2 separate regions of the Homo sapiens genome follow, and region 2 is linked to region 1. Evidence: fine-mapped expression QTL. A gene starts in region 1. The other region holds a variant in brackets. All regions are shown on one strand. Distances are from middle to middle.

Region 1 (4,381 bases):
GAGCGAGACTCCATCTCAAACAACAATAATAATAACAGTAAAACTCCAGTCTCCACTTTAGCTGGCTCTACATGTGTAAAACTTTCTCTATTGCAACCCTCCTGCCCTGATAAATCAGCTCTATCCGGGTAGTGGATAAAATGAACCCATTGGGCAGTTACATCAGTAACCATGTGTCACTCTACAGTGGGTTTGTTTTTTTTGCCACAGGGTCTCGCTCTGTTCAGGCTGGTATCACAGCTCACTGCAACCTCCACTTCCTGGGCTCAAGTGATCCTCCCACCTCAGCCTCCCGAGTAGCTGGGACTACAGGCACGCGCCACCAGGCCCAGCTAATTTTTGTATTTTTGTAGAGATGGGGTTTCACCATGTTGGCCAGGCTGGTGGTGTGACCTCAAGCGATCTGCCCGCCTCAGCTTCCCAAAGTGCTGGGATTACAGGTGTGAGCCACCGCGCCCGGCCAGGGTTTGTCTATATATCCTTATATAGATATGTTACTTGTAAAATGAGTTGCAATGTCTTGAGGAATTGCTACAGCAAATAAATAGATAAGCTGCTAAAGTGTATACGTATTTTATTAAGAAATGTCCACATAGGCCAGGCGCGGTGGCTCACACCTGTAATCCTAGCACTTTGGAAGGCCGAGACAGGCGGATCACATGAGGTCAGGAGTTCGAGACCAGCCTGACCAACACAGTGAAACCCGTCTCTACTAAAAACACAAAAGTTAGCCGGGCGTGGTGGTGTGCGCCTGTAAGCCCAGCTACTCAGGAGGCTGAGGCAGAAGAACCGCTTGAACCCGGGAGGCGGAGGTTGAAGTGAGCCGAGATCGCGCCACTGCACTCCAGCCTGGGTGACAGGACCAGACTACATCTCAAAAAAAAAAAAAAAAAAAAGAAATGTCTGCATAAATTCAAAGACGAAAAATGGGGGAAGAAATGCAGGACTGCCTTAAGGATGAAACCAAAAGAGAAGATGGAGAGAACATCTGGCTGGGTTTAGGTCGTGGTTCTGCCATGTGGCTTCCCTACTTTCTTTTAGGCAACAGATTCAATGGGCACCTGTTATAGGCCAAGCATTATCGCGGGGCCTGGGGATCCAAGATTAATTAGTAAACAGACGCTGGACAATATAGTCTGGAGAAAAACCCAAGTTACCTGCTGCTTACTTTGGGCAGGCCCTTTGGCTTTCTGTAAAACAGGAATAACCACCCCTACCTTGGAAAGCTGCTATTAGGATGAAGTGAAATATAATCTTCAAGATCACAGCATGTGGCATTATGCAAAATCCAGGGTGCCCCCTTCACCACCAGACTCACTCTCAAGTCACTTCACAAGTACTAGATACAAAAAAGACAGGTCTCTACGCTCGATCTACAGGAGAAGCCAGGTTTGCTAACAATTACAAAATAGCGTACCACGTGTAAAAGTCCAGTTAACAGAATGCGGGGGAGTTCAGAGGCCACCTAGTATGTTGGTGTGGCCAGGAGAAGGGGGAGTTGGAAGGCGGCATCTGCTTCCCAGGGGTGATGCCCCCCGCAGCTGGCTCCTTTCAGCCTTGTAGGAATTCCCTGGGCCCAGTGCCCCAGGGGGCGTCACTAGGAACTGCTCGGCCCCGAGAGGGGTTCCTTCTCCAGGGCTACTCCAAGGCCCCATCCCGCCCCGCCCGGGCAGCCCCCGCTGACCTTGAGCGAGGCCAGGTGGGCGATGTCGGGGCTGAGTTCTCGGAGGCAGTTGTCAGCAGCCGCCAGTTCACTGAGCAGGGGCAGCGCGCCGGGGCGAAAGAGCTCGGCGGGAAAGGAGTCTAGGCAATTGCCGGTGAGGTTGAGGCTCTGCAGGCGCGGGGCGCAGCGCGCCAGGTCGGCTGGCAGCTCGCGCAGCCGGTTGCCGCTGAGGTTGAGGCTCTGCAGCTGCGGAAGGCCCGGCGGCTCGGCGGGGCCCAGGCCTTGGCCCGGCGGCAGCGCCTCCAGCGCGTTGCCCGACAGGTCGAGCACCCGAAGGGCAGGCAGCGGCCCGAGCTCGGGGCTCAGGCCGGGCCCCAGCGCGTTGCGCCGCAGCACGAGGCTGTGCAGCTGCGGCAGGCCCTGCGCCAGGCCAGGCCCCGGCGCGCGCAAGCTCCCGCAGCCGCTCACTTCCAAGTAGTGCAGCAGCGGCAGGGTGAAAAGCCGCGGCGGCAGCTGCCCACCCGCCGCCCGCACTCGCTCCTCCAGCCCGGGCCCCGTCAGCAGCAGCTCCCGCCGCCGCTCGCGCTCAGCCAGCTCCAGCTCCGGCCAAGACTCTGACACCGCTGCCGCCGCCATGGCGCCTCAGCTGCTGGCAGGCACCCACCCACCAGGGTGCTTCCGGGGCAGCGCGCGCCACTTCCGACCTGTGCCGGAAAAGCCCATAGAGAAGCCACCTGGCTGCTAGAGTGCCGCCGCGCGTGCCATAGAGGAGAGTGGCCTCTCCTGCGTAGAGCCGGGGAGGGGCTGGAGAGCGGCTCGCTCTCTCCGCGGGTAGGGGTGAGGGTGGGGGTTATGAACCCAAAAATATCTGAGACAGGACTCAATGAAATGTAAAAAGTTTATTTTGCCAAGGTTAAGGACACGCCAGTGTCACAACCCTAGGAGATCGTGACGATGGTGCCCAGGGAAGTTGGGATGCAGCTTGGTTTTGTACATTTTGGGGAGACGTGAGACATCAATCAACACGTGCGAGTGTACCTTGGTTCAGCCCAGAAAGGCTGGACAATTCCAGGAGAGGGCTTTCAGGTCACAGGTAGAGAAGAGACCGGAGGGTGCATTCTTTTGAGTCTTTGTTCAGCCTTTCGCTGACTGCACAATTTATTATGCATGTGAGACGCGGGTAGAGGAATAGTCGCTTATGCTTTAGTCTGGCTTACTGAATCTTCATTTCTACGTAAACAGTAGAGCAAAGGAAGCGATCAGATATGCATTTGTCTAGGTGAGCAGAGGGATGGCTTTGAGTTCAGTCCTTTGTCTCGCACCTGTGAAGGGAAGCTATCAATTTGCATTGCCAGGGTGAAATTCAACAGAACTGTTTTAGGGTAAAGATCTTGAGGCCCACAGAGAATTTCTTTGTGGGCAAATTGTGAGGGAGGTGTGTAGCTTTAAAAATATGTATTTGTAACTATCTTATTTAGGAATAAGACGGGAGGCCGATTTGCCCGAAGCAGTTCCCAGCTTGACTTTTTCCTTTGACTTAGTGATTGTGGGGTTTTGAGATTTATTTTCCTTTCACAGGGTGGGGTGCGGGCGGATGGAGGAGCCAGAGTCTGTGCTCTACTGTGCCCCGACCGGCTTGTTTTGGAATTCCTGCACTTTTGAGTGGTGTAAACCAAAACCAAAATTCTTTTTTTTTTCTTGAGACGGAGTCTCGCTCTGTCACCCAGGCTGGAGTGCAGTGATGCTATCTTGGTTCACTGCAACCTCCGCCTCCTGGGTTCAAGCAATTCTCCTGCCTCAGCCTCCCGCTGGAACTACAGGTGCATGCCACCGTGGCCGGTTAATTTTTATATTAACCGTGTTAATATAATTTTTATATTAACCGGTTTTCGCCATGTTGGCCAGGCTGGTCTCGAACACCTGACCTCAGGTGATCTGCTCGCCTCAGCCCCCCAAAGTGCTGGGCTCACAGGCACAAGCCACCGCACCCAGCCCCCAAATTCTTATTTATTTATTTATTTATTTATTGAGACAGAGTCTTGCTCTGTTACCCAGGCTGGAGTGCAGTGGTTCCAGCTCGGCTCATTGCAGCCTCAACTTCCCTGGCTCCAGTGATCCTCCCACCTCAGCCCCTGAGTAGCTGGTACCACAGGCATGTGCCACCACGCCTGGCTAATTTTTGTATTTTTTGTAGAGCTGGGGTTTTGCCATGTTGCCTAGGCTGGTCTCAAACCCATGAACTCAAGCAATCCACCTGCCTCAACCTCCCAAATTGCTAGGATTACAGGTGTGAGTCACCAAACCTGGCCAAAAAATAAAATTCTAGAGGCTGGGCACGGTGGCTCATGCCTGTAATCCCAGCACTTTGGAAGGCCGAGGCGGGCGGATCACCAGGTCAGGAGATCGAGACCATCCTGGTGAACACGGTGAAACCCCGTCTCTACTAAAAATACAAAAAAAATTAGCCGGGCTTGGTGGCAGGCGCCTGTAGTCCCAGCTACTCGGGAGGCTGAGGCAGGAGAATGGCAAGAACCCAGAGGGCGGAGCTTGCAGTGAGCGGAGATTGCGCCACTGCACTCCAGCCTGGGCGACAGAGTGAGACTCCGTCTCAAAATAAATAAATAAAAATAAAATAAAATTCTAAGCCCCCCAACCATCTGAGTGGACCCCTCCTCTGGGCCAAGGGCATTCCCTAGTTAATCTGAAAAACTAGTTCAG
Region 2 (4,381 bases), 21 kb after region 1:
AGGAAAGCGGGACCGTGCCTGTGCTGACCGTGGCCTTGCGCGAGCGCCTCCCGGCGGTGCTCTCTGGCTCTCTCCAAACAGGACGCTTCCTTCTCTGATTCTAAGGAAGGCCTGAGACAGCCCTGAAGGCTTAATGTACAGTGCGGCCAGGTCCTGGCACTGCACGCAGGATCTTTGGTTAGCTGCATCCATATCGTTTGCACGAGAGCTGACGGCACAGACGCGTAAGAGGCGTGCACGGCGGGGAGCTGGGGACAGCAGCCAGAGCATGGGGCCACCAAGGCCAGAGAGTTCTGGAGAGATGGTGTAGAATCAGGAGACCCGCTCCATCCCTCACAGAGACCAAGGAGCCCGAGCGCCGCGTCAGCGCTTGGCGTACGTCCTGCTGGAGCTCTTGCTCAGTCCGCCCTTCGGGGTGGGGATCTTGCTTCCGGCCTTTGACCCCAAGGGGCCTGATGCGGCCACAGCTGAGCTTTTCCCTGCAGAGCAAGCACAGGACCTGCATTAGGAGGGGCACTCCTACCCACGGACCAGGTGCAGAACCTGTGGCCACAGACACCCAGCAACAACGTCCCAGGCCCATGCTGATGGCCGTCACCCGACTACAGGAGCCAGGGCTGAGCCTAGTAGGGTCTACTCTTCAGCTTCCTATTTTTTTTTTTTTTGTTGAGACAGAGTCTCACTCTGTCACCCAGGCTGGAGGGCAGTGGCGCAATATTGGCTCACCACAACCTCCACCTCCCGGGTTCAAGCAATTCTCCTGCTTCAGCCTCCTGAGTAGCTGGACTATAGGTGCCGGCCACTGTGCCCGGCCAATTTTTTATAGGGTTTCACCATGTTGGCCAGGCTCATCTCGAACTCCTGACCTCAAGTGATCTGCCTGCCTTAGCCCCCAAAGTGCTGGGATTATAGGCGTGAGCCACTGTGCCTGGCCAGCTTCCTGATTCTAAACACTTGAGTCAGTGATGTAGAAAGAGCGGAGGACGGGAGTGTGAATCCTAGGCCACCCGTGGAGCCTTCGCACTGCACAGCCAGTTTGCAGGTGGAGAAGGATTTTGGTCACACGATTCTGATTATTAGCCTGCTTACTAAGGAACCAGAACATGAAGACAGGCTTGGATGCTTTATTTTGCTTTTAAAGGGATGGGGTCTTGCCATGTTGCCCTGGACGGGGATGCTTTTTTGAATAAGTCAAAATGGAGGGATGCAGACTACACCTGCTCAGCGGCGCTGTCCCTCACCTGGCTGCAGTGCCGGGGCCTTCTGCAGAATGTGTGTCTTGCGCAGGTTCATCGTGCAGCCGGCTGGGCCCATCAGGTGAGCTTTCCATGCCTGCAGCAGAGGAGGCACACAGAGTGTTAATCAGGCGAGACGGACCTGGCACGCTACCTGAGACCCAAAAGGACTCGCTGTGTAAGCTGAAAACGAGGGCGGCCGCTCCAGCAAGAGCCGCAGAAGAACGGCTCCCTCACCTGGGCACCTCCCTTCGGATATGTTATGATAGCCTCTGCAGTCTGTGCAGGGTACAACTCAGGAAGCAAGAAGTCCTGTCACCAGG[C/G]AAGCCTGCATCTCGCATCCCCACCCAGCCACACAGGGCCCTTGGTGTCAGTGACTCTGAGCACAGCAGAGCGTGCACGCAAATGCAAGGGTGAGAAGCAGAGCGCCCGCGTGATTACGTTCCAGGCCAGAAGACAGAACGCGCCAGGCACCGCGGGCTCCCCGCCAGCCTGCTGCCCACGGTTCCTCGTGGGGTTCCCACTCTCTTCATCCCTGCTCTTCCTGAGCCACGCCACATGCACTTGCCCTGCAGAATGTGGGGCTTATGCAGGCCTGACTGCCTGGGCAGCCAGCTTCTTTCCTTTACGACCAGCTGTGGGACCGTCTGCATGGGGACAGGGAGCTCATCTCGTCCTCCTGTTGGATATAAACGCGGGATCGCTGGTTCCCTGAGTCTTCTGGACATTCGAGTTGTTCCTGGTTCCTTCCCTTCTATTTAAACAACACTCACGAGGCTGGGCGCGGTGGCTCACGCCTGTAATCCCAACACTTTGGGAGGCAGAGGTGGGTGGATCACCTGAGGTCAGGATTTTGAGACCAGCCTGGCCAGCTTGGTGAAACCCCGTCTCTACTAAAAACACAAAATTAGCTGGGTGTGGTGGCGCATCTCGTGTCCCCAACAGCTAATCCCAGCTACTCAGGAGGCTGAGGCAGGAGAATTGCTTGAACGTGAGAGGCGGAGGTTGCAGTGAGCCGAGATCACATCAGTGCACTCCAGCCCGGGCAACAGGGTGAGACTCCATCTCAAAAACAAACAACGCTTCCCAGGGACACTGCTCCAGCCGCTCTCCCATTCTCTGGTGGACCAGTATCTCCACCAGACACAGCCCTGCTTCTCCCTGGTTCCTCTCTCACTCTCACCAGTGGCTGTCAGTTTCTGGCCACCTGCGGCAGCCCTCAAGATACTAGAGCGCTTGCAGCCCCAGCCCAGCCCACTCCTGTCCCGCTTTAGCTGCTCCCGGCAGGCCTGGGTTCTGGTCTCTCCAGGCCACTGGCAACCTTCGTGTCCCTAAAGCTGGGGCGCCTTCTCACCAGAATGTGGCCCACCGGCACATGGGGTGCAGTTGCTTCCCCCTCCCCCGTGGAGGGACATGACCTGCTCTAAGGCTCCAATTCCTCCCTCCCCAGCACAGAGGTGGCAGGTCCCTCTCCATCCCTTGAATCTGGGTGACTGTGGCTTGCTTTGGCCAATGGGACAGTGGCAGACACGTGGCAGGGCAGGCTGAAATGAACTCATGCGCCTGGGCTTGTCTTGCTGTTGCCCTCTGCTGCTGTCGCGAGAACGCCGTGCCCAGGCTGGCGTGCTGGGCTCAGACACAGAAAGCAAAGCTGAGGTGCCGCAGCTGCCTCCAAGACCATTCTCAATCAGTCTCCGGCTGCGGACCCCAGGCACACGCGTGTGTGAGCCCAGTCAGGGCCAGCAGAGCCGCCTGGCCGCCCTATGGCCAAGTGCAGATGCAAGAGCCAGGCGGCTGCGATCAGCTGAACCCAGCCAGGCCAGCAGGGCATCCTCTCTGATGGGCTGTGCTCTGGGGCCTCCAGGACGCCACCCTCGTCAGGCTTCCTCCCCAGTGCATTTCTTCCCCAGCGCCTGGTTTGCCTTCTTCCTCCCACTCTGCCTGGGGCTTCTCCTCTGTCTACACTTGCTCTTTAGAAGAGTGCTCCCAGTATCATGACCTTAAACCCACTTCTTATACACGCTTACAAACCCCACATTTCCACCTGCAGCCACCTGTCTACCGGCCTGCGCGTCTGACAGGGATTTTAACTCCACAGCTCCAGGCTAAGCTCCTGAGCGCCCTGGATTCCTGACCGCAGTTACTTCCTTGCCATGTTGTGAGGACTCCACCGGCCAAGTCCTGGGTCTGCCTGCAGTGTGTGTCCAGAATCTGACCACTTCTCGCCACTTAGCTCTCTGCTACTACCCGACCTCTCTGTCCCACAGGCTGCTCTCAACAGAGCAGCAAAACTGGCTGGCATAGGGCCCGCCAGGCCATGCCCACTCTTCCGCTCAAACCCTGCAGGGACATTGCCTTCCACTCACTTTGAAGAATAATGGTCAATGATTTTTCATCCCCAGCATTGTCTTTCAGTCTATTTATGTTCTTTGATGAAGAGGAGGTTCTCACCTTTTACAATTTAATAGTTTTATTATAAAATGAGTGTACAGTTCAGTAGTGTTAAGCATGTTCACGATGCTTAACTCCAGAACTCTTTTCATTTTACAAAACCCAAACTCTGCCCCAAGGTTCTTCATTTTAATCTAATTGAATTGATCTGCCTCTTCCATCAAGGCTTAAGCTTTCTGTGTCCTGTTTGAGAAATCCCTTCCTATTCTGAAGGCTATTCTCTTATCTCTAGCATCTCCTGAGAGATTCATAATTGGGCCTTTCACATTTGAATCTCAGATCCACTCGGAGCTTTCTTCTGAGCAGTGTGGAGGGTGTCAAACTTCACTGTTTATCCCCCTTCACATTCAGAAAAATTCCAGATGTTAGAATTAGCACAAAAGGACTTTAAAGCAGATACCTAGTATGTTCAAGGACTTGAACGTGCAATGAAGTGCTACTGATCTATTAGAACCCGGGCGAACCTTGAAAACACGTTAAGTCAAAGACACAAAGGCCGCATAGTGTCTGATTCCATTTACAGGAAATGTCCACAGTAGGCAAATCCATGGAGACCAAAACTAGACATATGGTCGCCAGGGGCTGGAGAGGGGGCTGGGGAGAAAAGGGGCGGCATGTAGGCAGTGTTGTCTTTTGGGTGATGGAAAAGTTCCACACGTGTGCAGATGGTTGCAGAACCCTGAATACATGAAAAC

Direction of the effects. Positions count from the first base shown, and alleles are read on the strand shown. Sizes are in standard deviations (SD) of each study's normalised expression.
With allele G in place of C in region 2, the expression in breast of the gene that starts at base 2,321 in region 1 is lower (small effect, 0.23 SD a copy in GTEx).

Evidence for each region.
Region 2: its variant is fine-mapped to the expression of LRRC47 in breast (GTEx, PIP 0.98).

Annotation. Positions count from the first base shown.
Region 1 is chr1:3,794,178-3,798,558 of GRCh38, forward strand. LRRC47 (leucine rich repeat containing 47) reads right to left here and starts at 2,321. Exons shown (of 7, transcript NM_020710.3): 1 at 1,685-2,321. The coding sequence starts at 2,299. RefSeq lists a silencer at 1,883-2,092 and an enhancer at 2,208-2,502.
Region 2 is chr1:3,815,039-3,819,419 of GRCh38, forward strand. It overlaps CEP104 (centrosomal protein 104), which reads right to left. Exons shown (of 22, transcript NM_014704.4): 21 at 1,242-1,332; 22 at 1-479. The coding sequence ends at 364. Among named protein-coding and RNA genes, the nearest start is that of LRRC47, 21 kb to the left of the region's middle. The variant C/G (reference allele first, on the strand shown) is at 1,559.